Homo sapiens: one gene and its partners. The protein of the gene in region 4 purifies or fractionates together with the protein of the main gene of each other region. This does not show direct contact. Each region holds a gene or a part of one and is shown on either strand. Other genes may lie near its edges. The genes, in order: C17orf75, TNS3, WWC2 and DLC1.

Region 1 (8,068 bases), on a different chromosome or scaffold from region 4:
GCACAATCTGGGCTCACTGCAACCTCTGCCTCCTGGGTTCAAGCAATTTTCGTGCCTCAGCCACCTGACATAGCCAGGATTACAGGCATGCGCCACCAGGCCCAGCTAATTTTTATAATTTTAGTAGAGAAAGGGTTTTGCCATGTTGGCCAGGCTGGTCTTGAACTCCTGGCCTCAAGCAATCCACCTGCCATGGTCTCCCAAAGTGCTGGGATTACAGGGGTGAGCCACTGCGCCCAGCCCCCATCAGAATTTTGAAAACTTAGCCACTGAACCAGTTTTTTTGTGCTTTCCAACTAAGTTAAGTCACAAATTGTAAGACTGATGTTCCTTAAATATAAGCAAGCATTCAACCCAATTTATTAGAAATGATATGTATACAGAAGCTGCCAAAAAATAAAGTAAATGTCTTCTGATAATTCCAGTTTTGAGAACATCCTAATTAACAGACATCACAGCTATAAAGCAATTTGTTACTCTGTCACTGGTACTAATTAAAATTCAGACAAAAATTTCATGTGGCACTTGGCACACAGCCAACTAATTACCTTTAGTTTAAAGTTCTCCAGTACTTGTCGGAAAAGAAAAGGGTTACCTCCTTTGGCACCATTTAAAAAAGCTTGCATCCAATCCTCACAAAACCGGTTACTTCCTATAAAACATTTCAGAGAGACTAAATAAAATGAAATTTTACAAAGCTTTATTTATTTATTTATTTGAGACGGGAGATTCGCTCTTGTTGCCCGGCTGGAGTGCAGCCGGAGTACTAACTATATCGTTAGTAGAGATGGGGTTTCACCATATTGGCCAGGCTGGTCTCAAACTCCTGACCTCAGATGATCCACCTGCCTCAGCCTCCCAAAGTGCTGGGATTACATGTGTGAGCCACTGCGCCTGACCCATTTATTTCTTTATAAAAACACCTATAATGAATTATTTAAGACATGTATAATGGCCTAAAAAAACAGTGTGCTCACCACATGGCTAAGGAATACCAAAATGGCTGAAGCCCCCTGTATGCCCCTTCCCAATCACATCCCCCTTCCTTTCCCATCAGAGAGGATAATCATTCCCACAGACGTCTTTAAACTTTTCCCATATACCTTTGCACGTGTAAGCCTTATCTACATTATTCTGCATATGTTAAAACTTTTATGTATTTTTTCTTTTATGGCTATTTCACTAAATAGTATGTTTGAGAGCTATATTGACACAAGTAGCTCTAGTTCATTCTTTTTCACTGCTCTGTTATATTCCATTGCATGAATATAGCAGCTTATCAGTTTTCTTGTTGATAAACACTTAAATTGCTTCCAATTCCTTGCTTTTTCAAGTAATGCCTTTATGGACATTTTAAAATTCATCTCCTTGTGTACACATACTAGAATTTCTTTATGTACCTAGGTGTGGAATTGCTAGGCATGGCATGATTTCCATGTTTCTAGAATTATATTGTTTTCACCAAGTGGTTTCTCATGGTTTGAGATAACCATGTAAAACTGCACAAGGCAGGAAGAATAAGGTTGTATCATAGGCTCTCAGTGCAAAGATGGGGACTCGCAAGAGATGTAGGAAGGCTGCTTCAGAGGTTGTAGCTCACCTGCATTGCAGAACTGAGGCTGGGAGCTGCTGCAATCGATGACCACAGACTTATGCTGCTCCTCTGTCATGGCCATGCACAAAGAAGTCATGGTGCCTTCATGAATAAGTCCTTGAAGACTGGCCACACTCAGAAACCTGCCACACACACAAGTCCATTTCCACAAACAATATTGCAGGACGGAAGGATGAAAACAAATTTATTTTGCACTGGGCTGGTGGGGAAGGGATGGAAGGAGCAGTTTACAAACACAGATGTCAATCTTGCTGTGGAAAAGCTTTTCTCTTTGAAAAAACTGTTCTTTACCTGTTAATGTCTCTCTTTGTTTTTTCATCTGATTCTTTAACTTCAACAGGAGTGTAACTCAAAGCCTATGAGAGAAAAATAAAGCCTGATTGGTACATATATTCCAGTTTTTCTTGAGCAGCTACTCATGACTAAATGTCCCCATAAGTCCCTACCACACTGGACAACAATTGATGGGCACTGGTCACAAGCTCTCCAGAGCCTTGTTCAGCCACTGCTCATTAACATTTTATAGAATCAAAATTGCTCTGGATTTTTGTTTTCCTTTTCAAATTGTTTTGGAAACTATACCTTTCCCAGATCACTTGGAAAAGTAATTATTTTAAAATGTTTTATCCTATTAGGAAGACTCAGCATTTGAAATTCAACTCTACCTTAGTAATATCACTTTCTAGATCTGAGAAAATAAAGTGTGGTCTATCTTGATAGCAAGCATAGTTTGAATATTTGGGGAGGGATGGGAGTCATGTTCAGAGAAAATGAGTATGTTTCTAAATCATCCAAAGTGATTCTCAGTTAAGGAAATGCTCTCATTTGGCAGTACTTACAGCATGTAGCAGAAAGGTAAGCTTTTCCTGAAAGAGAAGAACAACCCTTTGGATTGGGCATACAACATCCTCAAACCAGCTGCTCAGATAGGATTTTATGTGACTCTCCAGGCCCCTTGCCTAAATCAAGAAAGAACATCATTTGCTTTAATATAAGCCTTTCCTTTAGTGGACTTCATATTTTCTTCATCATATCCTTGATGGTGAAAAAGACCAGGATAGACACCTCCCTTTTTAAAGCTAACACCACCAATTCAAAAAAAGAAATTGTGATATACCTTTCCTGGCTTGTTGGGCAGGGTGAGGGTTAAATCTGTACTGAATTTATTTAAAACACACCAAGAAATGCATTCTATAAAATGAAGAGACTGAATAGGGTTCCATGCTATTTCTTCACAGGGAAGAGTTGGGCACTCACAAGTCCCTCTCCTCCCACTGTACTGTGCACTCAATGGAGATACTCACTCAATAATCCTCATTTCCCTGGCACCTGTGGTACAGTGTCTAAAACATGCATAGTATGAGCTTATTAAGTGCCTTTTGAATTAGTCATGTAGATAGAGAATTCATTCGTATTCAGAATGTGAATGGGGAAGGATACAAGTAACTCATCAAAGCACTCCACTCCACTCCAGATGTCAGACATGCTACCGTGAGCACATCTGGCTTTCTAGGCTATACTGCTCCCTGAAGACTAGTGTCACACACGAAGAGCTCTAGTCCGGGAGAACAACTCTATTAGACTTGCATCAGTTGCTCACTCCTGCACTATCCCTTCCTCTCTCCTGCAGTATCTTCTAAGTATGTGAAAAGTATAACTTCTACTATATATGTAATGGGTAGTAAATTTGTGAGAGTCATGACTAACAACTGCTACAAGCTGAAAGCATTGTTTTTGTTTGCTTTTTTGAGACAGGGTCTCACTCTGTCATCCAGGCTGGAGTGCAGTGGTGCAATCATAGCTCACTGCAGCCTCAACTTCCCAGGCTCAAGCGATCCTCCCACCTCAGCCTCCCAAGTAGCTGGGACTACAGGTGCGTGCCACCATGCCTGGCTAATTTTTGTATTTGTTGTAGAGATGGGGTTTCACTTTGTTGCCCAGGCTGGCCTTGAACTCCTGGGCTCAAGTGATCTGCCCGCTTTGGCCTCTCAAAGTGCTGAGATTACAGGTGTGAGCCACCACACCCAGCCAGTTTTTCAAAGGTTTGAATAAGTTGATATGGATATGCCTAATTCATAAAAGATCAATTAATGAAAATAGAATGTTTTTAAGAATCTTTGATGTTTAGTTCAAGAACAGCCATACTATTGCATAGCATGTCTTTGGTGCCAGAGGCTGCATGGACCAGTACTTCTGACCATAATATAAATCTTATATGCCTAGAAATCAGGAAAAGGACATCCTCTTCCTCGCCAGGCATGTTACTACATGCCATTGAATAGATCGAATTTTTCATAGATACAAAACATCAGACGTAGTCTTGTGAAACTTTCAGCACTTACAGGACTATGTTTCCTGTATCCCTTTAAGATCACCTGTAGGCTGGGTGCAGTGGTTCATACCTGTAATCCCAGCACTTTGGGAGGCCGAGGCAGGTGGATTACTTGAGCTCAGCAGTTCAAGAGTTCAAGACAAGCCTGGGCAATATGGCAAAACCCCACCTCTACCAAAAATACAATTAGCTGGGCATGGTGGTGCATGCCTGTGGTACCAGCTACTTGGGAGGCTGAGGTGGGAGGATCGCTGGAGCCCAGAAAAGGCTGCAGTAAGCCATGATCGTGCCACTGCACTCCAGCCTGGGTGATAGAGTGAGACCCTATCTCAAAAAATGAAAAAGAAAAAGAAACCACCTGTAGGCTGGGCACAATGGCTCGTGTCTGTAATCTCAGCACTTTGGGTGGCTGAGGAGGGAGGATTGCTTGAGGCCAGGAATCCTAGACCAGCCTGGGCAACAAAGTGAGATCCCCATCTCGACAAAAAATACCAAAAGTTAGCCAGGCGTGTTGGTATTTGCCTGTAGTCCCAGCTGTTTAGGAGGCTGAGGCGAGAAGACTGCTTGAGCCCCAAGAAGCTGAGGCTGCAGTGAGCCTGATCGCGCCACTGCCCTGCAGCCTGGGCAACAAAGCAAGACCCTGTCTAAAAAAAAAAAAAATTCACCTCTCTACTAGCTCACAAGGTGGCAAGTTTCTAGAATACAGGCGTCTTTGTGTCTACCTATATGATTTGACAAGTAGAGCAATCACAGTATATTAATCATTTCAGTCATTATTTTATTTTTTTAACTCTGTCGCTCAGGCTGGAGTGCAGTGGTGCAATCTCGGCTCACTGAAACCTCTGCCTCCCGGGTTCAAGCGATTCTCCTGCCTCAGCCTCCCAAGTAGCTGGGACTACAGGTGCCTGCCACCATGCCTGGCTAAGTTTTAGTAGAGATGAAGTTTCATCATATTGACCAGGCTGGTCTCTGACCTTGTGATCTGCCCACCTCGGCCTCCCAAAGTGCTGGGATTACAGGCGTGAGCCACTGAGCCTGGCCCCATTTCAGTCTTTAAAAACCATTAAGTCAGTCACCTTACCTCACAATTCATGTTATTTTTCAGCCCTTGAATGTACTTGTCCAATTCAAGCCTGAAAGTATGTTCTTAAGGAAGCAATAAAGGATGAATAATGAAGACAGTATTTCATCTCTCAACAAGAAATATAAAATCTCTCAAATAATGTGAGCTGCAAATGCAAACAAGCCAAGGCAAAATGGCCACATGAAGGTATGAAATTCAACTAAATACACGAGGAGTAGAAAAGCTTTTTGGAGGTTGGTAGTAATATTCTTCCACCTGCCTTCCCATGTTTTCCTTCCTGATGTTCTCAAAAACCAAAGAAAGGATATAGCTCAAGTCCTTTTTCAGACCCTCCTAAAAAACAGACCACATATTCTGAAGGGTTACGTTCAGAGTCTATCGTTACTGTTTCAGGAAGCAGTTTTTCATTTTGGAAAAGGCAGTAATAACAACCAACTCGGTAACCTGGAATTCTAGAAAAGAAAGAAAATGTAAAATGCATTATTTTGGTTACTCATGCATCTATAATTTTGTGGACTGCTCTGAATTCTGGTCATCTTGATCTGGCAACACCATTAAACTGCCCACTAACTCAGAGCTTCCCAGACTTCTCGTTGGTGTACTTGCAGCAGCAAAGAAAAATGAATGTATACCCTGGAGGGCTTTAGTTAAAGCAGCCACTAACATACATGAAATTTCTTTGAATTCTCCTGTCTTATGTGAAAAATTCACACAAATTTCACTCTAGTTCATACCCATGTTTATATTAAAAAAAAGTATGTTCTCCCCTCTCCCAAAGCTTCACAAATTGATGTTTAAGGCAGATGTGCCTGAAGGTGGCCTTATCCTTGGGAAGTGGCCTCAAACTCCTGAGGACCTGTATGCTAACTTCACGGTCTGAGTTGAACTAGAATAAAGAGGTGTAATGGAGGCCGGGCACAGTGGCTCACACCTGTAATCCCAGCACTTTGGGAGGCCAAGGCGGGTGAATCACCTGAGGTCAGGAGTTCGAGACCAGCCTGGCCAACATGGTGAAACCCCATCTCTACTAAAAATACAAAAATTAGCCGGGTATGGTGGTGCATGCCTGTAATCCCAGCTATTCGGGAGGCTGAGGCAGGAGAATTGCTTGAACCAGGGAGGCGGAGGTTGCAGTAAGCCAAGATCATGCTACTGTACTCCAGTCTGGGCAACAGAGTGAGACTCTGTCTTAAAAAAAACAAAACAAAACAAAAAAGGAGAGGTGTAATGGAAAGACAGTTGGAATTGGACTAAGAATGCTCATGTTTAAGCCTGAACTCCATCAATTTGACCAGCCTCATGACTTAAGTTTACATAAACTCTGAGTTTATTTCCTCATCTGAAAATGAAAATAAGAGAGTATCTGCTATATTTCCCCTTTGTAAGGAAAACTACATAAAAGTTTGTGAAAATACAAACTGTATACAAATTTAGTTTTAATAATCAACACTTTTCTTCTTCTAAGTACAAAACTTATTAGCCTGGGCAACATGGTAGGACCCCATTTCTAAAAAAAAAAAAAAAAAAAAATTAAAAAAATTGCTGGGCATCGTAGTGCCTGCCTGCAGTCCCAGCTACTTGGGAGGCTGAGGTGAGAGGATTGATTAAGCCCAGGAGGTCAAGGCTGCAGTGAGCTGTAATCGGGCCGCTGCACTCCAGCCTGGGCAACAAAGCAAGACCCTGTCTCAAAAAAAAATAAACTAATTAAATAAAGTGCAATTGGGTGCCAGGGTCTCTGCCATTCAATTAATTCCATTCCACAAATGTTTATGTGTGAGGCCCAGTGCTCGGGCTGCCAGAGAATAAAGACAAATTCTGCAGGTCTAGTAGGAGCTGATCTTTTGGAGTTTCTCATCACTTCTCATATTTAGTTCAGAAATAAAAACTCAGGACACAGCACATTTTGCACTTACTTTAGCTCCACAGATGCAACATTACCCAGCCCTTCAAAGACTGCACCTCTTGAAAGACGCTTAGCAATGAAACTGCGCAGCTCTGGCTCCACTTCGGATGGTAGATTAGTATCTGCCAAGGAGAGGCTTGACAAATGAAAGACACACATTCTTTACCAGTGGACTAGGGTATTCACACCCATTAAGTCAGACAGAATGGTACCAACGCCAGGGGCTCTTTTAAGGACTGGGGAAAGCTGTCCTTATGACCCCTATTGGTGAGGCTTCTAGGAATGTATGTCACTAAGTATGATCTACCTCATCAAATAGCTTAAAATATTCCTATCTTTCCAGCTCATTCTCTCCAGTACTGTGACTCCACTGGAACCCCCAATCCACTGACCCTACCTCTTTTTCAGTCTCTCAAGTTTCTCATCTCACTTCCCTCCTTATTCTGCCTTAATTCCATGGTCAGTCATTATAATCACACCCCTGCACACATTCTTATCTTTTTTATCTTTCAACTTTATTGAGGTATAATTGATGATTTAAAAATTTCAGGGCTGGGGCCGGGAGCAGTGGCTCACGCCTGTAATCTCAGCACTTTGGGAGGCCGAGGCAGGTGGACCACAAGGTCAAGAGATAGAGATCATCCTGGCTAACACAGTGAAACCCCGTCTCTACTAAAAAAAAATACAAAAAAATTAGCCGGGCGTGGTGGTGGGTGCCTGTAGTCCTAGCTACTCGGGAGGCTGAGGCAGGAGAATGGCGTGAACCCGGGAGGCAGAGCTTGCAGTGAGCTGAGATCGCACCACTGCACTCCAGACTGGGCAACAGAGGGAGACTCTGTCTCAAAAAAAAAAAAAAATTTTTCAGGGCTGGGCAAGGTGGCTCATGCCTGTAATCCCAACACTTTGCGAGGCAGAAGTGGGCGGATCACTTGAGTCCAGGAGTTCAAGACCAGCCTGGGCAACATGGTGAAACCCCATCTCTACCAGAAATACAAAAATTAGCCAGGCGTGGTGGTCAGTAGTCCCAGCTACTGGGGAGGCTGAGGTGAGAGGATCACCTGAGGCCGGGGAGGTTGACGCTGCAGCGAGCCAAAGTCATGCCACTGCACTCCAGCCTGGGCAGCAGAGCAAGAC
Region 2 (8,026 bases), on a different chromosome or scaffold from region 4:
TAATTAGTACGTTAAGACTAAAGTCTACCATGTTATTGTTTTGTTTTGCTTCATCTTTGTTTTTCTGTTTCTATCTTCTTGTCTTCCTGTGGGCTAGGACCCATCTTTTAAGATTCCATCTTGATTTTTTAATTGCTATTGCATGTATCTTTGTGCATAGTTTTTGTAGTGGTTGCTCTGGTTATTACAAAAATATTCATAACATCACTATTTTTATCAACCTTTTACTACTTGTGTTGAAGTCTCACCTCCATATACGTTCTTTCATATTTCTCACTTTTTCCTTTCATTGTCTTGAGTATCAGACGGTGGTGTAATATCTTTTCCAATCATCAGATGTGATTGATGACTTGTGATGAGAAGGAGGGTTTGTTGTATGACTCATGCTCTGCTCTTTTCATTCTTCTTTCTTCCCTCTGGATGCTCCAAGGTGCTTTCTCTTACCATTTCCTTTGTGTTTGAACTTCTTTTGTCAATCTTTAAATGTAGGCTTGCTAGCAACTAATTCTTTTCGTTTCCTTCATCTGACAATATCTTTATTTCCTCTTCATTTCTAAAGGAGAGTTTCACTGAATATAGAATGCATGGTTGATTTTTATTTTCTTTCTGTCCTTGGAAAATGTTGCATAGCTTCCTTCTGGCCTTTATGGTTTCATAGGAAAAATCCACTGTCATTCCAATTGGTGTGCTCCTATTCCTATTCAGAATCCATCATTTCTCTGTGGCTGCCTACAGGTTGTCTTTAGTTTTCAGAAGTTTAATTACAATATTTCTTGGCATGGATTTTGGTTGTGGTTGTTGATCCTGTTTGGAGTTCACTTGGCTTCTTGATGTATACATGTCTTTTTGCTATATTTGGGGAATTTTTATCCATTAATCTTCAAATATTCTATAGCCTCTCTCTTCTCCTTTGGGCACACCAGTGATACAAATGTTGGATCTTTTGTTAGTGTCCTACAGGTTCTTGTGGGTGTTCTTTTTCTTTTTTTTAGTTTATTTTCTCTGTGTTATTCAGATTGAGTGAATTACATTGTCGCCACAGTCACTGATTCTATCCTGCCATTTCCACTAGTCTACTACTGAATCCATCTAGTAAGATTCCTTCACTTCTGTTATTATACCTTTTAGCCCTGTAATTTCCATTTGGTTCTTCTTCATCACTTCTATTTCTTTACTGTGGCTTTCTATTTTTTCATTTCTTCAACAGATTTGCCTCTTGAAGCATTTTTATGATGGCTGTTTTCAGATCCTTGCCAGATAACTCCAGCAGTTGGTTCATCTTGACGTTGGCATTCATTGTCTTTCTCATTCATGCTGCACATTTCTTGGTACTTGGTATGAAAGGAATTTTCTATTGTATCCCATTTTACCTATTAGGGAATTCTGGGTCTTATTTAAATATTTAATTTTAGCAGGTAATTGCCCTGATTCTGCTTAGGGAGCAGGGCCTGGCCTGATTTGTGGCCTGTGGTCCCACTGACAGTTTAATCGTCAGAGCCTTTCAGCGTTATGTTAGTCTGCTTGGTTTATCAGGTACCTCTGGGGTCCCTGCTGACGTTACCTGAGGGACAGAAGGGGTGTCTCTCAGTGGGAGAGGGAAGCTGCCAGCACACAGCTATGAAACCTTCCTGGCCTGGTGTGTGTTCTGGTGGGTCCCCTGCCTGTGGGAGATGGAGTGTGCTTCCCAGGTGGGGCTAAGGGGGATCCTGCTGTTTTCTCCAGCCCCCCAACCCTGGACTCTCTGAGATGGGACAGAGAGGCTCCCTCGGCCAGATCAATCATTGCAGTGGAGTCCCTTTTGCTGTTTCCTCTTCCTGGTCATCTGGCTTGGTGATAGGCTCTTGGTGACCTATTTGTTCTGTTGCCTCAGGCCAGGCTTCACACTGTGAACTGATTTTTCAGGAATTTAAGGGCGACTTGTGTTTTTCCCACTTATCTTGTTTGCCAGTTCAACAGCCCTTCTGTCCAAATGTGTCCAGATCTCACCAATCCCTGCATCATAAAATGTCCCTTCCCAGTCCAGGCCCCAAGTCTACCTGGAAAACTCCAATTCATCCTCTGAGACCAGCCCAACTGCCCCTGGTCTGTGAAGTGTGATCCCCAAAGCCATCAGGCAGGCAACCTACCTCCCTGGGGACAGGATGAGACACAGAAGCCCAACTGAGCTACAGACCTACTGTCCTCCAGTGGGCAGATCCAAAGTGTTCATTACACAATAGATCAATGACCCCCCAAGTGGACGGACCAAGGTGCCCACCACATTAATAGAAGGACGACCCCAGTAGGTAAGGCCCAGGTACTCATTAGGTAACAGATTGCTGAGAGATGAATGGGGGACCCATAACATCCTCCTGCAGCAAGTGGCAGGGGCCTGTCCAGCTGAGGTCTCATGGCCACTGGGTCTCTCCAACAGTCCCCAGGGCTGGCTCTGGTCGGGGACCTAGGCACATGTGCACACTGTACGGAGCCCAGTAATTGTGACAAGTATGGTGTTCTTGGGAAGCACACTCCCTAAGCCGCAGTGAAATCAATGCCCTGTCCACCTTTCCACCTTGTGACATTGGTCAAAGGTCTGGGCAATGACTGGCTTCAAAGACTCAATGGGAGCTTCCTGTTGGACAAGATTTAATCTGCCACCACCTGCCCTCTCTTCTGCTCCAAAGCAGTAGTACCGGGACCATTTCAAGTTCACTCTCCCAACATAGCTGGGGTGAAATATCTCTGTGTCTCCTCAGAGTGGAAAGCTACAGTCTCTGGGGGCTGACCACGCAGGCAGAAAACTGTGCACAGGGTGGCAGCTAACTGCCATCTTTATCTGTCCATAACCAAATGAGCCCAAAGCATTGCTTCTTTTCTGGTTTGGATCTGAGGGAGTGAGGTTAGATGGGGTCCTGTGTCCCATCACCTGACTCAGGAGGGAGGGGACAGGCCCAAGAGGGCAGAGTCCGTAGAAAAGGGCAAACTCCCTTAAGGTGGGGAGGGAGGAGCCTTGGCTGGGGGAACAGAAGAGGCAGGTGACACTGGCTGTCTCCAGCATCTGTTGATGTGTAAGTGAATCCACCAGTCTCAATATTCACTTTTAGTGCCCACTTCAATAGACACTGGGAGGTCCTTCAGGAGCTGGCCCACTTCAGGGGTGTGTTTCTGCAGCCAGTGTGTGTGTAGGGGTATTCATAGCAACATCGAAAACATGTCAGGACCCATTATCAACACTGCATTGTGGTTAATCTTCAAAGATCTTTGAATATAACATTTCAAAGGTCTCTGGGCAGAAATCTTAATATATTCCTGACAGCAAAACATTTGTGATTTTATAACTGAATCCACTGATTTGTAAACACACAGACACACATTCATGAACGAGCACACACGCAGACGCACAGACACATGTGGACAAAGATACATCTGTGCAAGCACATGCACACATTTGCAGAGACACATACACAAAAGTGCACACATGCACACGCATACACACATGTGCAAACACACACAAACATACTTCAGGGTACACAAATACCGTCTCACGGAGGCTTACCAAGTTCATAATTTTATTATACTCTGAATAGAGATGATATTTAAGGAGCAGAGAAAATGACTATACAAAAGATTTATAGAACATTCATTTACATACTGGATATATTCTTTACAGTATCAGAAAAGTAAAAATATGCACTAACAAGGCAGAGAAGACGTTACAAGGTATTTGATGCTGAGAATAAATGCACAGTGACTTTTAACATGGCTATAGCTTAACACTGGAGGAATACAACAATACGTTCTTTTACTGAGTAGTTAGTAGGACCCTGGCTATAACATGCGTTGGGCACAGTTCGTGAACTCTCCGCATTTACTCCCCAGGGCAGTACGTGCCTGTCCAGCGGGAGCCCTGGAGACAAAATGCCTGGAAACGTTCCTTTTCCTGTGGCCCTAGAGCCGGTGTCCACGGTGGGGGCTCTCTCACGGTTTCTGAGCCCACAGTACAATCTGTGATGACACACAGCTTGTTCTGTTTAATGCACATGTAACACAAAAGGAAGAAAGAAACTTCCTATACCAGCTCTTCAGAAATCGTGGAAACTTGCTTCCTTTGGTTCCTCAGAGGGAGCTATCTGCTTGGAGCAAATTCCCCGATGCCCTTGACCACGTTTACCTTGTGTAAAAATCACACCTGGCCAATGAGTTCAAAAAGCACGTTTGCAGGGCTTCCTGAATGCCGTCGAGGCATGGCTTCATGAGGGCCATCGCGGGCACCCCGATGTCTCTGTGATTCCCTGGCAGGCTGCGTTTCTCAATACTGAGACCCTAGTTTGCTCTGACTTCTAAATGAGCTCTCTCATCCTTCATCAGAAGGATAAGGAACCTGGCCTGCACTCTTTGGGTTAAACATGGGTAGAGACCGTCTCAGGATGAGGACCTCTTGGGGAAAGTACAAACCTCTGCTCCCTGTGGCCACATTCCTGCAGTGGATGAAAAACCGAGATGCTAGAGGCCTCTGCTAAAGACATCAGGGTCAACACATGAGGATCTGCTGAAAATGCCAGCACCTCCTGACAGTCATGCCACCGCAAGTTAGAGAAGGAGGTCCACAACGACCAAGGCAAACATTTGGCACAGAAATGAGGCACTTGGTTTGGTGCATCAATAGGAGCTAAAAAGTGGAATGGTCCACCTGCTTTCACACACGCATACACGCACGCATGCACACACGCACACACACACAACACCCACTGTGATTTGGCTGCTTCCAACTCTGCCTGTTTCTAAGTTTTCCTCGGCCCCTCACTTTAAAGCAGAGTTCACAAAGCACATTCCCAAACCCCAGCTCCCTGACAGGAGCTTGTGACACCAGTGTGGCCTAAGAATGGGGGATTTGACTTTTGAAAGCAGAGGAGGGAATTTCGGGCTGGATCGCAATCAGGACAGTCAGCATGCCTGCAGAGCACCTAGGCTGTGAGAGGATGGGGCCAAGGCCTTATTCTGATGTGGCCCAGCTCCATCTTTCACTCTGGGGATGTTCCAGGGTCACAAATTCCCCCAAACCTTTGACCACGAACAGATTCAAGCAGGAAAACCAGGGCATTGGAATGTTGAAATAAGCCTGAAATACACTTGATTCAGTGGCTTAGATGATGGCAAACAGTGGCACTCAAAAACAGCTTGTCAGTACCGGGGTTTCTTCTCTTTTTCCTCATCCTCCCTTCTGCTCACACATGCCACAACCACACATGGTCCCCAGCAGGAACCCCAAGGTGGCAAGGAGCAGCACAAAGAGGGCTGATAAATGCAGGCGAACTTCAGGTCGTGCAGCTTCAGGCCTGAAGATGATCGAAAAGCCCATGTGGGGGATGCTGAGCTTAAATCCAGGAGTTTTCCATCCCTCCTGGACTCTCTCCATCAGAAAAGAAGTCATCCACAATCGGGGAAAAACATTCCAATGAGTAAAACATCAGGGTAGGTTGCTTGAGGCAAAGCCACCTTTGGGCGGCACCGCATATGGGAGACCCACAGTCCACTGCACACTCTTTCAGTGGCCAGGGGCCTGCGGTGCATCCTACATAGGGACAAGCCTCACAAAATCACAGCTTGGCAGGCTGCAGCATTTGACACTGGTACAGTATAGCAATGGCAAATTATCATAAATAATTTGGCATAAGTAAAATATAAATTACATAGAAATAATATTTTTGTTCCTTCTTCTCATTTCTCCTCTCGGTCCTCACAGGCTCTCCCCAGCCCAGCTCGCCCAGCTCGCCCAGCTCGCCCAGCTCACCACAGGTGAGCAGGAGGCACAGAGCACTCACCATGGTGGGGTGGCATGGGGTCTCCAACGTGGCCAATTCTTCCCACCACCCCCATCCTCACAGCCCATCGCAAAGGCCCCTCGTTGTAGGCCCTGCTGTGTTCCAGAAGGGCCTGACTTGCACAAACCTTCGTCAAACATACGCCCCCTTCTCAGTTTCGTTAGCATCTCCATCTTGGGAAGACCGAGGTGAGGGAAACCCCCGGCCTCGGGTGCAGCTGGACAGAAGCGCCCATGCGGACGGGCGAAGCATGGCAGTCACTCGGCACCTCTGCCTCAAGGGCTGGGGATTCCTCATCCCCCGGAATGCTAGTGTGCCAGGGACATGGGGACCACCTCGTGTTCTGTGCTGTTTCCTTGCATGTCCCTTTCCCATGGGGACCCTAGGGGGTGGGGTGCACCCATGCCCAGCTTCTTCTACCCAAAAAGCATGTGGCTACAGAGATGTGTCAGATAAGTCACTTTCAGGAAAGGCCAATTCACGGTGATGTTGTTTGTTCTTGTTTTTGCAGAGCTGGAAGATCCTCTTTCCCCTCATGGGCCTGGAATGTCAGGTTTACTAGTTTGGTAAAAAGTGGGGGCCCCACCCTCACCCAACGGCTGTCTCCAGGGCTTCGAGAGGCATCGGTGGGTCCAGGGAGGGAGGGGAGTTCTCAGACCTTCTTTGGGGAACCAATCATGACCTTTGATACGAAGTTGACAATGGCACTGGCAGGCTGCTCAGGGTCATGCTCTGCAAACAGGTGGCACACATTATCCGTGGCACTGCCCTGCTTCCGGGCCACAAATCCAAAGACTCTGCCAAAGGAAAGTCCAGTCAGAGTGGTCAGTGTCCCACAAAGTACCAAGCTTCTACTTCCTCCAGCTGCCAGCGGCACTGTCAGGAGGAATTTTAAGTGGCACCTATCAAAAATCAACCACGTGCCCAGCACCCTGCTGGCCACCTGTTCATGCACTTTACCTCCAGCCTTCACAGACCTACAGATGGGATGTCTGACTCTAGCTCTGCAGTGAGGACCCTGAGGCTGAGAGGTGAGTGCCCTGTCCACAGCCCCAGGTTAGGACCTGAATCAAAGCTGAGGCTCAACTTCCTCTATAGATGCTTCCCCACGCCAGGGCCAGAATCTCCTGGGCACCTGTCCCTGCAGATTCCTGAGCCCCAGTCCTGACATACTGGACCACAGTCTGCAAGGCGAGTGGCAAGGGACTCAGGGGCTCCTGAGATGATGCCAGAATGCAAGTCCTGTCTGGACTTCGACACTCCCACCCACTGGGACCGAAGGGGAAATACACTAGGCGCTCCTCTCAGGCCTTGGAAGCCTGCATTACAAACTACATAGACTTCAGGGAGCTGTTTAAAAAGAACAGCCCATCGAATTATTTTTCTTAGAAGAATTAGAGCCATTATCTTAATAGGCTTTTATGAGTCCTGCACTTCACACAATAATGACCATATCCCTATCCAGGTCCTGGGCAAAGGACTTTCTTCTCTTTCTTAGAAAAATGAAGGATTTTTTTTGTTTAAATTTAGCAGTTTCCGCATCATGAAGGGACCAGTCAATGACACTCAGGTAACCCCAATACAGTCACAAATTCCAAGCACATGAAAGCCCGTGTTTCTGCTACCAGCCAGAGTGGGAGTGTGCCCAGAACACAGTCCCCACCGGGGAAGCCCAGCTCGTCAGTACCAGGGTCTCTTCTCCTTCTCCCCGCTTCTGCTAACGCATGCACTGAGCAACTTCCTGGACAGACAAGCCATTTGAAAACAGGATTCCAGGGAAGGATGCCTGTGATCAGGCACTGTGGTCATTAAATCCGGGTTATGCCGAGGAAACCAGGCTGGGGGGATACAGCCCATTGTGCCTCCAAGTGGGAGGTTAGGATGAGGTCCCTCAGCTGGCCCTGACAGGAACACTGGGCCAGGAATGAGCCCAGGCCAAGCAAGGCCACGGTACTCAGGGAGCCAGGGAAAGGTGTGCTTATAAAAGGGGAACTCTAAGCCGGGCACGGTGGCTCACACCTTTAATCCCGGCACTTTGGGAGGCTGAGGCAGGTGGATCACCTGAGGTCAGGAGTTCGAGACCAGCCTGACCAACATGGTGAAACCCCGTCTCTACTAAATACAAAAAATTAGCTGGGCCTGGTGGCGGACGCCTGTAATCCCAGCTATTTGGGAGGCTGAGGCAGGAGAATTGCTTGAACCCGGGAGGCAGAGGTTGCAGTGAG
Region 3 (8,068 bases), on a different chromosome or scaffold from region 4:
CCAGATAATTTTTTTGTATTTTTGGTAGAGATGGGGTTTCACCATGTTGGCCAGGATGATCTCCATCTCCTGACCTTGTGATGCGCCCACCTTGGCCTCCCAAAGTGCTGGGATTACAGGCATGAGCCACCACGCCCGGCCTGGCCTTGTCTTTCTTTCAAAGTCTAAGTAATTTCTTTTTTTTTGAGACAGAGTCTCACATTGTCGCCCAGGCTAGAGTGCAATGGCGCGATGTTGGCTCACTGCAGCCTCCACCTCCTGGGTTCAAGTGATTCTCCTGCCTCAGCCTCCCGAGTAGCTGGGATTACAGGCACCTGCCACCACGCCCAGCTAATTTTTCGTAGTTTTTTTTAGTAGAGGTGGCGTTTCATCATGTTGGCCAGGCTGGCAAATTAAGTAATTTCTATGAACCCACTGCTAGACTGTAAACTCCTGGAGTCCCCGATTGCTTATTACTGCTTTTTGAATCCTTTATACATGGTATGTTAAATAAATGTTGGTTAATTTAGTTAATGAAGACAGTTTGTTAAATTAATGAAAGAATATTAATTGAGCTACTCTCTTATTTCCAGATTCTTACTGTTGGGCTTTCAAAAAATAAACCCATAGCCACCAACAGAGACAACTGACTTTCCAGTTATATTTAAAATAATAAGAGAATTGAGCTGCTACATTTTGAGTAATAGTATAAATATGAGAATTACTTATAAGAGCAAAGAAAACAAAATGAACCTTGATAGTCTTAATCACAACTGCCATTGTCATAGACTGCTGGAATTGTTCCTCTCCAGCAGGCCCTGAGTCTGGGTGCCAAGTGGTTACTGTGAATTATTTGAGTGATTATAGTATTTGAAGTGTGGAGAGGTTGTTAAAAGAGGATTAAAAAAATCACTCTAGGAAGCACTAATTTAAAGTATGCTGTCTTCCAAAAATTCCAAAAGAAATATTCTTTTTAACACAGTTTGGTATAATGCTTGCTGGAGTGAACAGTACTATAGTTGCTTAGTATATTGGAGGGTCTAAGAGTTCTCCAGTGACATTAATAGTCCATAGCTTGCAGTGTAATTTTGTTGGAAGACTCAGGACAATAATTGCTTTTTAAATAAAATAAATATTTTATTTATTTATTTTTTGAGACAGAGTTGGCTCTGTCGCCCAGGCGGGAGTGCAGTGACACAATCTCGTCTTACTACAACCTGTGCCTCCTGAGTTCAAGTGATTCTCCTGCCTCAGCTTCCTGAGTAGCTGGGATTACAGGTGCACGCCACCCTGTACCCGGCTAATTTTTGTATTTTTAGTAGAGATGCGGTATCACCATGTTGGCCAGGCTGGTCTCAAACTCCTGACCTCAAGTTACCTGCCCGCCTTAGCCTACCAAAGTGCTGGCATACTATTATCTTTAAATATGTTATTTGTTTTGAGCTGCAAATCCCTAAGCTTCATCTACATAGTCAGCCATTGTGACATGTGGCCTTCAACAAGTTGGTATTTAAATTTAACCAGAGGAAGCCCAGGTGCACCAGGAAAAGCGTGGAAGTTGTCTGTTGGCCCACACTGCCGGGCCCTGCATTGCCTTGTAAATGGCTCTTGCTTACTTATTTTCAGTAATTGTCTGTAGGAAAATGAGATTATCACTTTAGAGGGGCATGGCCAGCTTCTTCTTGCCGATGCAGGAGTTACTAAATTAGCAGGAAACAGTGTTAGCCCTAATACACTGTGAATTCCTTATGATAGGGCTTGAGTCTGTATGTATGCCCTGGTTCCTATGAACTTGATTGAAATTGGTTAAACTGATCTTGTGTTAGAATTTTGGACTTGCCGGGCGCTGTGGCTCACGCCTGTAATCCCAGCACTTTGGGAGGCCAAGGCGGGTGGATCACGAGGTCAGGAGATGCAGACCATCCTGGCTAACACAGTGAAACCCTGTCTCTACTAAAAATACAAAAAATTTGCCAGGCGTGGTGGCGGGTGCCTGTAGTCCCAGCTACTTGGGTGGCTGAGGCAGGAGAATGGCGTGAACCCGGGAAGCGGAGCTTGCAGTGAGCAGACATTGCGCCAATGCACTCCAGCCTGGGTGACAGAACGGGACTCTGTCTTAAAAAAAAAAAAAAAAGAATTTTGGACTTCTTTATGCATTTCTAAACTCCTGTTACTGAAAAAGTTACCACAGAATAATGTAGAAGAGGAAAGGGATTTTTTTTTTTTGACAAGAGTTTTATTCTTGTTGCCCAGGCTGGGGTGCAGTGGTGTGATTTCGGCTCACTACAGCCTCCGCCTCCTGGGTTCAAGGTTCAAGCAATTCTGCCTCAGCCTCCCGAGTAGCTGGGATTATAGGCTCTCGCCACCACGCCCAGCTAGTTTTTGTATTTTTAATAGAGATGGGGTTTCACCATGTTGGCCAGGCTAGTCTCGAACTTCTGACCTCAGGTGATCTGCCCATCTCAGCCTCCCAAAATGCTGGGATTACAGGCATGAGCCACCACGCCCGGCTGAGGAAAGGGATTTTTAAAGGCACAGTGTGTATGTAAGTTGTGAGATACAAATGATTTATCAAAATATAGGTTCACAATGTTTTCAATGTCTTCAGTGATTTTTTCCAATTATTTTATCTTTATTAGATTAAAAAAATTCCTCAGCATAAAATTATTCATTTTAACCATTTTGAAGACTACACCTTAGTAGTTTTTAGTATATTCATTGTTATGAAACCATAAACACTGTATAATTCCTGAACATTTTAATCACCCCCAAAACAAACGACCCCTTACCTATTAAGAACTCACTTCTCATTCATCTCCCGTCTCTACAGCTTTTTGCAAAAACTGATCTACTTTGTGTCTCTGAATTTGCCTATTCTGGACATTTTATATAAATGGAATAGTAAAATTTGTATCCCTTTGTATCTGGCTTCTTTTTTTCTTAGTGTAATGCATTCAGGGTTCATTTTGTAGCATTTATTGTACTACTGCATCATTTTCATGACTTAATAATATTCGATTGTGTAGATATACCATATTTTGTACTTTCATTAGCTGATGTGCATTTGGGTCATTTCCACTCTTTGGCTGTTATGAATGATGCTGCTATGAATATCCCTGTACAATTTTTGTATGAATGTGTGTCTTCAGTTCTCTTCAGTATATACATGTCTAAAAGTGGAGTTGCTGGGTCATATGGCAGTTCTATGTTTAACTTTTTGAGGGGACTGCTAGACTGTTTACCACCATTTTACATTCCCACCAGCAGGGTATGAGTGTGCAAATTCCTCCACATCCTCACCAACACTTCTCTCTCTTTCTCTCCTTCTCTCCTCTTTCTGTCTCTCTCTTCTCTTTCCTTCTCTTCTCTTCTCTCTTTTCTTTTTTTCTTTTCTTTCTTCTTTTGAGACGGAGCCGGTCTCTCTTGCCCAGGCTGGAGTGCAGTGGTGATCTCGGCTCACTGCGGCTTCCACCTCCACCTCCAGGGTTCAACAGATCCTCCCACCTCAGCCTCCTGAGTAGCTGGGATTATAGGCACAAGCCACCATGCCTGGGCAATTTTTGTATTTTTAGTAGAGACGGGGTTGGGCCGGTCTCGAACTTTTGACCTCAAGTGATCTGCCTACCTTGGCCTTCCAAAGTGCTAGGATTACAGATGTGAGCCACCACAACTGGCCTCACTTCTTTCTTTTTTTTAAAAAGTTATTTTAGTGGGTGTGAGGTAGGATCTTACTGTGGTGTTGATTTGTATTTCCCTCTTCGTAGTGTTTTGATGGCCTTAGTTGGGCCCAAGCCTCCCCTTATTCTAGCCTTTTATAGCTGTTGCTATTCTGCCCCCTTTTTGTTTGTGTACTCTCACTCTTACTTGATCAATAAAAAGTTAGGTAAGAGAAGTTAGAGGGTTTTTTTAGTCTCACATTGCTCTTCCCTTTTCTCCCTATCTGATTGCTTTGAGTGATTATTTAATACTGACATTGTAGATATGCATTAATTAACAGTTTTTATTGTATCAACCAGCCAGGTACCCTGGACTCTGGGAGATAAAGATGGATAAGATTTGGTCCCAGCTCAGCTTGCCTACAATCTAGTGTGCATAATCATCATTTAAAAAGTGAAAGAAAATTTTGAGTATTATCTGTTAAATTTTCTCTATATTCCTATATTTCAGTTTAAGGGTACCTTCTTCCTAAACACTCAGAGGGAAGACAGTTGAAAGGAATTAAAAGCAGAATATATTGGCAAAGTATATATTAATTTTTTTCTTTATTTCAAATGTGATGTATTTTATGAGGCATTTGTGTGAGTCACGTAATGAATCATATGTGCAATGTATATACATCAGCTTATTCAAAATGATTTGACATGTAAAGGCTTTTCCTTTTAGCTCGTTATATATGTGAAGAATTAAATTTATTTTTGTTCATTGTTTTTTTAAAAAATGGCAGGAGCAAACCTGACAAGCGCTGCCTCCATCAGGTGATCAAAGGGAACATCCAGGGCACTAAGTCCTGCTGATACACCCTTGATGTGATGTGGTGACAATGGCATTTTATCTTTGTGGTCTTTCTCCCCCAAAACCGTAGTAACTCCAGTCTAATCTTGAGAAAAACACCTACTGGATCCCAGTAGAGGGGTATCCTATAAAATACCTGACCAGTACCCCTCAAAACCGTCAAGATCCTCACCAATAAGGAAAGTCTGAGAAACCCTCACAGCCATGAGGAGCGTAAGGAGACACCAAGACTAAATGTAATGTGTCCCAGGGGTGGAGGAGTCCTGGGCTGGAAAAAGGACATTAGGTGAAAACTAAGGAAATCTGAATAAGGTATGGATTGTAGTTAAAATTTTTTTTTTTTTTGAGACACAGCCTCACTCTTTCACCCAGGCTGGAGTGCAGTGTTGTGATCTCGGCTCACTGCAGCCTCAGCCTCCCGGGTTCAAGCAATTCTCCTGCCTCAGCCTCCCCAGTAGCTGGGATTACAGGCATGTGCCACCACACCCAGCTAATTTTTGTATTTTTAGTAGAGATAGGGTTTCACCATGTTGGCCAGGCTAGTCTTGAACTCCTGACCTAGTGATCTGCCTGCCTCGGCCTCCCAAAGTGCTGGGATTACAGGTGTGAGACACCACACCCGGCCCGATTGTAGTTAATTTTATTAATGTTAATAGATGTACCATACCAACAGGGAAAAGTAAGTGTGGACTATATATGGCAACTTTCCACACTAATTTTGTGGTTTTTTTTCTATAAATCTAAGACTGTTCTAAAAAATAAAATTTTAAAAGACCTCTTAAAAGTCACACAAAACGAAGTGATTTTCTTTGGTGGAAGCATAACCATGTTTGTTGTTTATATGAAAATTCTGCTTTGTAGGCCTCATTTTAGCCCTCCAGCTAAGAATGGGTTTTAAATCATGAAAAGCTGTAAACAAACAAACAAAAATAAAGAAGAATATGTGACAGAGACTAAATGTGGTTCACAAAGCCTGGAATGTTTACTTTGGCCCTTTACAGAAAGAGTTTGCCATTGTCTTTAAAAATTTTATAGCAATATTTTTAAATGTTTCTATAAATATTAACCTTTTATGATAAAATGGCACATTTATTAGTGATCATTGCACATTCTTTTATGCCAGCAGTCCCCAACCTTTCAGGTACCAGGGACTGGTTTTGTGGAAGACAATTTTTCCACAGAATGGGATTGGAGGAGTTGCGAGGGATGGTTTCAGGCTGAAACTGTTGGATCTCAGATCATCAGGGATTAGTTAGATTCTCATAGGAGCGCACAGCCTGGATCCCTCACATGTGCAGTTCATTATAGGGTTCGCTCTCCTATGAGAATCTAATGCCACCACTGATCTGACAGGAGGCGGAGCTCAGGCGGTCATGCTTGCTCGCACCACACACCTCCTTCTGTGCGGCCCAGTTCCTAACAGGCCATTGACCGGTACCAGTCTGTGGCTAGGGGTTGGGAACCCCTGATTTATTCCACAAGGGATTTGGACTCTAGGTACTGTGTGGGACAAAGGTGAGTCAGACATGGGTGCTGAATTTGAGGAGCTGTCTTGTATCTCATGTTACTTTTTTTTTTGTTTTTAAAACAAGGAAATGCAGCATGTTACTTAGTTTCCCAAACTGGTTCTTTGAATTAGCTGGACCTAATGGTAGTGGAAATAGGTCTGTTACTCTTAAGGTAAGAATGATTTCATGGGTCCCTGTTCAAATGTAGCAGCCTGTGGATTCTGTATACCTCATGATTATTTTGATGGAAAATCAAGAGACATCTCTGGGCACCTGGCTTTGCCATGGCAGGGCCTAAAGTAGAGATTGCTTTTGTGGTGTAGAGACAGCTCAACCCCAGTCACTCAATAAAGTTACCAGATACCAGGCGCTGCTATATAATTCTTAAGAAGAGTTGTACATAGGACATGAGAAAAACAGGCAAAATGAATTTTTGGAAGTACCATAGTTGTTTGTTTATACTTGACTGTTGGAAGTATATAGTATTATGCTTTGGTAGTTAGAAATACTGACTTTCTTGTGGCATATTGATAATATTTATAAAATTACTAGGTGATGATCAAGCAAAAAATTATTCCATATATTATCCTTGTGATGCCTGTCACTTTGAAGCATGTCCCAAAGACTGCTCTGTAGAGCTATTTTTTTTTTTTTTTTTTTGCTTTGTCAGTAATTTTTCCTATACTTTTTGCCCTGATGTCAGTAAACAAATCATGGTTCCAAAATGGAGCCAGCTCAGAAGTGAGGTAGTCATGCACTAACAGAGTTATGTATTGGGAGCTGTTTTTTCACTCCTGTAGCTCATGAGGAATTACAATAGTTCCAATAGAGCATTTGAATAAAGGTGTACATTTAATGTACTTTGGTTTCACTAGGAGTGGAGGTAGGAAATTTAATTTTAAAGAAGCATAGACATTGTGTTATGACAATAATCACTTTTAACTAAGTAAGTGTCCCTGGTATTTTTGTGAAAATGAGTATGTCAACATTTGGAAGGCAAAGAGGCTTTCCTTTGGTGTGAACTTTGCTCCTGCTGCATGTGCAGTGTTGTTTTCTGGTGTGGCCTGGGTTGTGTTGGTCACCAGTTCTGAATGTGAACAACAGAGGTAAACGTTGAATTATAGAGATTGGTGCTACAAACCCCTGATTAAAATCCTGATTTACAGGGCTGGGCTCGGTGGCTCACGCCTGTAATCCTAGCACTTTGGGAGGCTGAGGCGGGCGGATCACGAGGTCAGGAGATTGAGACCATCCTGGCTAACATGGTGAAACCCCATCTCTACTAAAAATATAAAATAATTAGCCGGGCGTCGTGGCAGGCGCTGGTAGTCCCAGCTCTTCGGGAGGCTGAGGCAGGAGAATGGCGTGAATCCAGGAGGCGGAGCTTGCAGTGAGCGGAGATTGCACTACTGCACTCCAGCCTGGGCGACAGAGCCAGACTCCATCTCAAAAAATAAAATAAAATTCTGACTTACTAATGGACTGTAGAATACGTTGCATACTTTATTGACAGTTGTGCATTTTATAATTGCATAATTGGTATGAAGTGGCAGTGATATTCAGTTAAGTTTAAAATGTGGTAGACAACTTTGCACAAGATTTGAGGAGCATGTAGTTTCATTTAGTGTGAAACTTGAATCTACTCTGCAGTTTTCCTTAGCATTATGGTTTTTAATAGAGATACATTAGAATTCCAGTCTTTTTTTTTCTTTGAAACTGTGACAGTGAATGAATGTGTGGAATCTGCTTTGTACATAGTATCACTGGGTTATCAGCTTTGTTGACTTACTGGTCTAGGTGTAATTTTGGGCTGGTTGGTAATTCTGTCCATACCATATGTTCTTTTCTTATCTGCTGCTTATCAGTGTTTGAGTTTGATAAAAACAGATCATTTACTTTCTGTTTTGTTTTTTTTTTTTTGATACCGGGTCTCACTCTGTTGCCCAGGCTGGAGTGCAGTGGCGTGATCATGGCTCGTTGCAGCCTCAATCTCCCTGGGCTCAGGTGATCCTCCCACCTCAGCCTCTGGAGTAGCTGGGACTACAGGGGTGCGGCACAACACCTGGCTA
Region 4 (8,068 bases):
AGTCATATGGAAACTGTTTGTGTCCTTACTTATGTAATCGTAAAATTACATTTCCACCTGACTGTAGTCTCTTCAAGGTAATCTTAAATGTTTAAATGTACAATATATTAGAAAAGAAGTTTAGTAATGACCGAAAAAGTGTGGACTTATAATGCATAAGATACTGTTATATTTCTGAATATTTATAATAAAATTCATCATTTTATAGAAATAAAATGGTACATAAAGGGAAGAAATATTCATGTACATTTTCAAATCTATTAGATGAATACAAAATATACTAAGTGAAAGATGGAGAGCTATTTTGACAGTTGGATCATAAGAAATGAAGTAACTGTTTTCATTATAAGTTTTTATATAGTACAAGGTGACCATCTGCTATATTAGCTATTCTCAAATTTTATGCTAGAATAACTTATATTGATAAATTTTAACTATTCACTGACAATTTGTGTTAAAACTTCTTAAATATGAGAAAAAGAATCTACTTTTTATATATGTGGAAGATAAAATACTGACTTATCTAAATTATGATTTAATTAAAATCTCCAAATGGAATTTCAGAGAAGGAAAGAACATAAGAGATGGTCTCCTCTAACAATGGCTTGAGGTTGTCTACAAGAAGCTGAGAAATGGGATTTAAAAGTGACCTGTCCAAGGTCACACCTCTAGCTAATAGAAGAGAGGACAGCAGAACCACAGTGCCCTGATTCATAATTCAGATACCTTTTTATCCCATCATCCTGCCCTCCCATAATAATTATGCATAATGAAGTATGAACATGTCCAGTAGAAGGGTGCTTTGCAGACAGAAATTTGCAGTTCCTCTAATTTAAAAAAAAAAAAAAAAAAAGGTAAAACTGTCACCAATGTTAATTATGTGGGGAAAAAAATCCTAACTTTAAAAAAAAATCAAATCAGTATGCCTTCAATAAACACTTTACAGTAGTAACTTGCTTTATGACTATTTTATTATATTTGATGTTTATGTCAAGAAAATCAATCCATATGCTAATAATTATATTAATTTTAATCTGATGTTTCTTTAAAAATAGGGCTAGAAAACAGCTTTTCTAATTTATATCCTTGTACTCAAATGATCATAATGAAACTGTCCCAACCAATGACTTTCAGAGGCAATTTTACAGCACCACCCCCAGGCATCCTTTCTTCTATCTAGCCTAAATCATTGTTGCTGTAGCTTATTTCAAGTTCTATGTGGGTCTTTTCACTAAATATATAAAAAGCCTAAGTTGACATATAAAAAATATGTTTACATTTCTCCAGCATGTTTGCAATCCCTTAATTGATTTGTATGTCTGCTCTAAGCCTTCTACAAAGTCATTTAATTGTAGAATGCAGAATTTTTACAGTATATAAATAAATGTCTGAACAACGTGGTATAAAATGGGAGCGTGGGCTATTTCATCTGCATCATACTTCATATATGACAATATTTGTTGCTGTGTGTGCTGAAGCAGTATACCTTCTCAGACAAGACCCTTTCTCATAAATGTAACACATTCCATTTCTAATAGCTGCCATTTCCTTAGAGAGAATGTGTCACGATACTTTTTTTTTCCATTTTCATGACCAGATTGAGTTTCCTGATGTTATTACTACTTAAAAGAGACACTATTCAACACTTCCTTTCAATGTCACCACACTCTACATTATTGGAATGAGAAATAAGTGCAGTAAAGTGGTGGCCCTTATAGCTGACTGCCTGATTCCTAGAAGGCCTAGTAAAAGATAGCACATCACTTCATTTTCTTCATAAGGACATTATAATTTAAAAAAAAGAATTTTTTCTCTCTCTGTCTATACCTACCCATACCATATAACTCACTACAAATACTTATGGGATGGTTTAATCTTATTCATAGAGTTTTAGATCTTACAGGCTTAAAATAGGTCAAAAATTGATCATTTGAAATTTGTCTTTTGTTTGTTTTTTGTTTCCTCTTGAAAAATGAGTGATGTCAGTGTTATAAAATGAGAATCACTCTTTAAAAACTATTACAGTATGGCAAAGTTCCAAATGACCAAGATCTAGATCAGGGATTTTATTATCAAAATAGAGACATGTCAAGAATTGCACATGAGAATTGGAAGAGGACAAGGGAACACTGAAAACTTTCAAATTTGAGGGAAGTAGTGTGAATATTGGGCCTGCTTTCCCCACACGAAAGATAAGCCCCTTGCATAAACAACATAGACCAAACAGAGTTACAGAGAAGAATGACTCTTGATTGACTTTGGTGTGATAGAGAAATACAGTGTTTACTTCTATGGTTCTGTTTTGGCTTTCAACTGATAGTTTACAGAGTTTTGATAAATAAATGGGCTAATTTTTAAGAAAGTTAAACAGAATAATAATGAATAAACTAGGACCTTGAGGCCCAGTTAAAAAAGATTGTTAATTTTGATTCAGTGGATTAGAGTATATAAATGAACTTTAAAAGATTAAACAGTGACTCAAATGCCAAAAAAAAAGGTGAAAGATAATGTAAACAGCATGCATATGAACTTGCTCATTAATTGAGATAAATGGGTGGAAAAGACAATTGCATGTGTGAAAAGGTTGTTTCTGTATTAGCTTGAAATAACAAAGTGTTTTAGCAATGCAATTCAAATAATTCAAAGAGAAAATCAGCCCTGTTAATGGAAATGAGATAGAAAAGAAGTAGGAAGATCAAACAGCAGGTTTAGATACTCAATTAGTGTTTCTTTTATTCCCAGCAATTAGCAAAATACCTAGCTTGCCAGGAATTATCAACACTTATTTGTCAATAAATGTTTGTGAAATGAATGGAAGGAAAAGCGAAGGAAAAAAAAAAGAAAGGAAAACCAGGGTTGAGGAATGGTAATGTGTGGGAGTTGGACTTCTTTCTTATTTTCCAGACATCCTGTAATAATAGAATAATAATTTCTAAAGGGGAAGGAAAATAAGAGGTTGGAAAGAGTCATCAGAGCCTGGGGCCAGAGGTTAACAACACTCTCATTAGATGACATTTCAAGTTCATTAAGCACCAGAAGGAAGCATAGGCATCCAGAAATGGTTTGAAATTAAAAGTTACATGAGGCCAGTGAGAACAGAGCACTAGTGAATTTTCCACATTTTAAATGGGGTGGTGTACCGAAAAAAATAATGGACAAAGTTAGAAAACTGGCTCTGATTTCCTCTTAACCACTTGACGCTCTGTGATTTGATGTTTGCCCCGTAACTACTTTGAGTTTCTGCTTTTTATTAGTAAAGTATGGGATTTCCAGGTCATGTTAGGCATTAGATGAGATTTCATGTGTGCAAATTGTTTTGCATACAGTATAATCAACAAGTCCTTGTTTAAAAAGGCATAAGTCAATTAATCAAGAAAGAATATGGGAGGCCAAGGCAGTCAGATCACCTGAGGTCAAGAATTCGAGACCAGCCTGACCAACATGGTGAAACCCCATCTCTCCTGAAAATACAAAAAACTTTAGCCAGGCATGGTAGCAGGCACCTGTAATCCCAGCTGCTCAGGAGGCTGAGGCAGGAGATCACTTGAATCTGGGAGGTGAAGGTTGCAGTGAGCCGAAATTGTGCCATCACACTCCAGACTGGGCGACAAGAGCAAAACTTCATCTCAGGAAAAAAAAAAAAAAAAAGAATAAAGAATAATTGTGTTTCACTCACATTTTGTTCTAATCACTCATCTATATTGAAATATCATGGACATAGAAGAGATAGTTTCAGCTCATACTCAGCCCTGGATTCTGCAGCTAAGATCAGTTGAAAGCTAAAGGAGTCATCATCACCATCACCATCACCATCATCATGATCAAGTCACTTTACATCTAGTGAGTGCTTGAAATGTGCCATGGACTAAGTGTTTTACATATATTATAATCTCATTGTTATTAACTCATTATCATTTTCCCCTCAACAGTTTTTTCATTATTCCCATTACAGAACTGAGAAAACTGAGGTACATAGAATTTAGGTAACTAACCCTAATCACCAGGGGGAAAAAAGTTATTTCACAGACATCCTCACAAAAATGGGAGACAATTCCTGCCCACCAGTATGTATTTGACACTGAGCTAGTTAATCAGTCCTGCCAAAATTCTTCCCTATCAAATTAATTAGAGCAATAATGGTATTTGTTTCATACAACATTTGTATTACTGCTAAAGGAGATAGCTTCTAAGTAACACACCGAATACAGTACTTGGCCCATAATAAGTGCTTAATTAATTGAAGGATGTTTTTACTATAATTATCATTATAAGTTTCTAATGCACTTAATATTTCTTAGGTATTAAGAAAAACACTTGGTGATAAAAATAAGCTCAAACATTTATAGGTAGATGACATAATTAAGATGAGATGATAGAGATGTATGGAAGACAAAAGTTGATAGCAGAGACATTGACCCCAGGTAGGACACCAAGCTAACAGAAGTAATTAAGTTCCTAATGACATCTTGTTCCTGATTTCAGTGAAAATTGTGCTTATGGAATGACTAAAAATGTAATTCCCTACTGTCAACTTGCTATCTGAGCACCTGGGTTGATGTAGCTATATCTGTTATTTACGCGGAGTGATTACTGTGTCTACTGTTGGAGTGTTCTTAGAAATGATAGCAAAGCTAAAAATAAAGTGACCACTTAAAGCAAAACCGCATCTCACCATGATGATGATAAAACATTATAATCCGTGTTCCTTGTTGAATAAAAATATCTTTTTATAATACAGCAAACCACATTTCAATCATACTGCTTTGCCATCAATAATAAAAAGGTCAGCCACACGTTTAATATCAACTTTAACCCTAGGCTATTTCCTGTTACATGAAAAATTTCAAGTGAAACAAGATCAGAGGAAAGGCAATACTTCTCTTTATTGTAAGAGGTTCTACAGAAAAGAGATATTATGGCAAAGAAGATAATTATTCATTAATGAATTTATTTGCAGAATTAATCTAAGGTACAATGTATTTGTAAATGCCCAAATTATTCTGCATAGGATCAAACAGTACTATTAAGAAGATTGCATACTTAAAAAAAAATAAAACATGGAGATCCAAATAAAACATAGATACTTAGAAATTACTACATCTGGCCGGGCGTGGTGGCTCACGCCTGTAATCCCAGCACTTTGGGAGGCCGAGGTGGGCAGATCACGAGGTCAGGAGATCAAGACCATCCTGGCTAACACAGTGAAACCCTGTCTCTACTAAAAATACAAAAAAATTAGCCGGGCTTGGTGATGGGCACCTGTAGTCCCAGTTACTGAGGAGGCTGAAGCAGGGGAATGGCATGAACTCGGGAGGCAGAGCTTGCAGTGAGCCCAGATCGCGCCACTGCACTCCAGCCTGGGCGACAGAGCGAGACTCCGTCTCAAAAAAAAAAAAGAAAAAGAAGTTACTACATCCATAAAGCAATATTGTCCCACATGGCTCTGTTAATTCTGGGATCTCCTAGAAACCAATATCCCCAGAAAGATCTCAGTGATATCAGGAGAATATCATAAAATATTCCCAGTTTCCTCAAATTACATGCGGGTTGCTTAAGAAAATGTTAAGAGAATCTCCAAATCTGGCTGGCTTGAGCCATAAAGTGGGTGGTAAGTCAAACACTGCCAGTATCTGCTCTCCTCTCTGCAAGAAAATTAGACACTACTGGAAGCGACATTAAATAGCAGCAACCTGGACGTAAAAATAGAGCACCGCTGAAATAATAGCTTGCAGTTTTGCAACACCCTGCTCTTTTCTCATGAGCTGACTTCTAGTGGATTGAAAGAGTTAACTTTCAAATTTGCCTGAATCACTGAGGGCTAAGAATAAAAAAAATGTTTTAAGTTGAGTAAAAACTCAGATATACCTAAAAATGGGTTAACAATAAAATAATATTTTTCAGCTGGGTACCTATTTCTTCATTTTTCTTCTAAAGACTAAACCTGATGGAACGTTGGATGTGTATTTTGGAAAAAGTGAAACACTACTTATTCCCCTTACTTGGCTCATTATAGATGACTTATTCTTTAATTTGGTAAAGTTTTTGATGCTTTCCAGACAGCCTAAAGACATGGAAGCTACTTCATATATAATATTTTAATCTCCATTAAGCAATTTGCCAATAAAACTTTTAACAGGGATTCATGTTTTCCACTAACATGTAATGAGGTATAACAAGTACATTCCAGCATTAAACAAAGTATGTAAAAGTAGAGGAATAATGATTTTGTGTGGGATTAAGACACATATTGCTACTAAAGAAAGGGAATCTGCATGAAATCATATGGAGGTAAATTCTTGCATCATGTTATTAAATGTTTATCCACCCACAGTCTAATTCTAGTCTTGTCTAATTTAGATTAGATAACATGAATATTTTAAAGGAAAAACACTAATTGTTTTTTACTGAAAGTTGGCTGTCTGGACTAGACTCATAGAAATGCTTTTTAGAAATGTGCTCTTACGGTTTTTGCTATTTGTTTGTGTATTTACATAAAGGAATTAAGAAACATAATATCTTCCCTGGGCTTTCTGGCTTCTAAGCATATGTCAAGTCAGTTTGGTCGTAAAGAGCATTCCTCTTCATTTATCACTGAGCTGTGTGCCAGTGGGAAGGCGCCCAAATGTACACAATTTAGTTTGCTAGGTAATTTGTTCTTTGACATTATCATTAAGAAAATGGGTTTCATTTTGGCTTCCACAAATGCTCTTTGTAATGAAGATTTACTTTGACATGAGTTGAAGAACTATATTAAGTTGTGCTCCTGTGATCATGTCTGTTTCCAGGTTGTTGATCGTCTTTTCTAGTTGCCTAATTCAATTCAGTAAGTGTTTTGGGGGCACATACGATGTACAAGTGTGAGTCCCCAAGAGTAGGCTAAGATACAGTAAGATTTCATATCATTACCAGATATTCAGGTTTCCAACATATGCATCTTACTAAGGTGACCCTCACCACGTAGCAACAAAATGTGCCAAATGTAGAGGTGTCTTCTTCTTCGTTCATATGCTGAGAGAGCATTTTAGAAACTGTTAAGTTGCGTTTAATTAACATGAGATTATTTCCCTTACATCTTCTCTTCCTTCCCACAGTGACTAAGCACATGCTATGCGATAGCTGTTTTATGTAAGTGTGTGTGTATATTTATATACATACATATGCACACATATATATTTGGGTGCATGTGTCTCTCTGTGTGTATATATATGTGTATATATATATATATATATATATATATACACACACACACACATGTGTGTGTGTGTGTGTGTGTGTCCATGTGTGTGTATGTGTATAAAGCAGTAGGTGGAGAACACGACCTAGAAATTTAACATGGGATGGCTAATCAGGATGAAAAACTCTAAGGGAAACCAGAAGTAATTCTAGCTATCTAAGGAAGAAGTAAGAAAAGAAAAGTAAAATGGCAGTACTGTTATGTCTTTATTTTCCCTTCCATTAAATATTCAGGATATTTAATAGAATATCCTAGAGTCAATCATGTGTTCATTTATTTATATCAATATATATGTGTACACACACACACACTCTCACAACCCAGAAGTCAATAGCGTGTTCATTTATATATATGTGTGTGTTTACATATACATATTTATGTGTGCATGTATTTGTATACATATGTGTATATATGTGTGTGTATACACACATATATATATCACATGTATTCTCAAAGGACTGCTTTATGTATACACACACATATATGTATCACATGTATTCTCAAAGGACTGCTTTATATATACACACACACATATATGTATCACATGTATTCTCAAAGGACAAAATAAGATACCTGCATTTGATGGGATGAATACAAAAGTTGCCATCTTTCCAAGTACTGTGAGTGAGGGATTCAGGAAAAGTGGGAATTTGAGTGAGAATTCCCCATTTATGTGCATGTACTAATGTAATGCTATTTATATGTTATTTTATGTATCTTAAACTTCTATTCAGATAACATTTTAGGAAAACTATGGCTTAGACAATTCCTAAGAATACCTGTTCCAAATTTCAGGAATTCCCCAGGAGAGTTAGGGAAGGAAAGGAAACTGAA

What was found.
Region 1: the proteins of DLC1 (region 4) and C17orf75 purify together in Homo sapiens (affinity purification with mass spectrometry; one large-scale study listed by BioGRID and IntAct). This does not show direct contact.
Region 2: the proteins of DLC1 (region 4) and TNS3 purify together in Homo sapiens (pull-down; one study listed by IntAct). This does not show direct contact.
Region 3: the proteins of DLC1 (region 4) and WWC2 purify together in Homo sapiens (affinity purification with western blotting, with the first as the bait; one study listed by BioGRID). This does not show direct contact.

What each region holds. Positions count from the first base shown.
Region 1 is NC_000017.11:32,332,869-32,340,936, forward strand, and holds part of C17orf75 (protein Njmu-R1), read right to left. Parts: intron 7,071-8,068; coding exon 6,945-7,070; intron 5,484-6,944; coding exon 5,340-5,483; intron 5,087-5,339; coding exon 5,029-5,086; intron 2,575-5,028; coding exon 2,455-2,574; intron 1,972-2,454; coding exon 1,907-1,971; intron 1,738-1,906; coding exon 1,601-1,737; intron 653-1,600; coding exon 549-652; intron 1-548. UniProt on the Homo sapiens protein: As component of the WDR11 complex acts together with TBC1D23 to facilitate the golgin-mediated capture of vesicles generated using AP-1. May have a role in spermatogenesis.
Region 2 is NC_000007.14:47,271,623-47,279,648, forward strand, and holds the end of TNS3 (tensin-3), read right to left. Parts: intron 6,599-8,026; coding exon 6,454-6,598; 3' UTR 3,532-6,453; downstream 1-3,531. UniProt on the Homo sapiens protein: May act as a protein phosphatase and/or a lipid phosphatase. Involved in the dissociation of the integrin-tensin-actin complex. EGF activates TNS4 and down-regulates TNS3 which results in capping the tail of ITGB1.
Region 3 is NC_000004.12:183,103,793-183,111,860, forward strand, and holds part of WWC2 (protein WWC2), read left to right. Parts: intron 1-8,068. UniProt on the Homo sapiens protein: Regulator of the Hippo signaling pathway, also known as the Salvador-Warts-Hippo (SWH) pathway.
Region 4 is NC_000008.11:13,505,752-13,513,819, reverse strand, and holds part of DLC1 (rho GTPase-activating protein 7), read left to right. Parts: intron 1-8,068. UniProt on the Homo sapiens protein: Functions as a GTPase-activating protein for the small GTPases RHOA, RHOB, RHOC and CDC42, terminating their downstream signaling.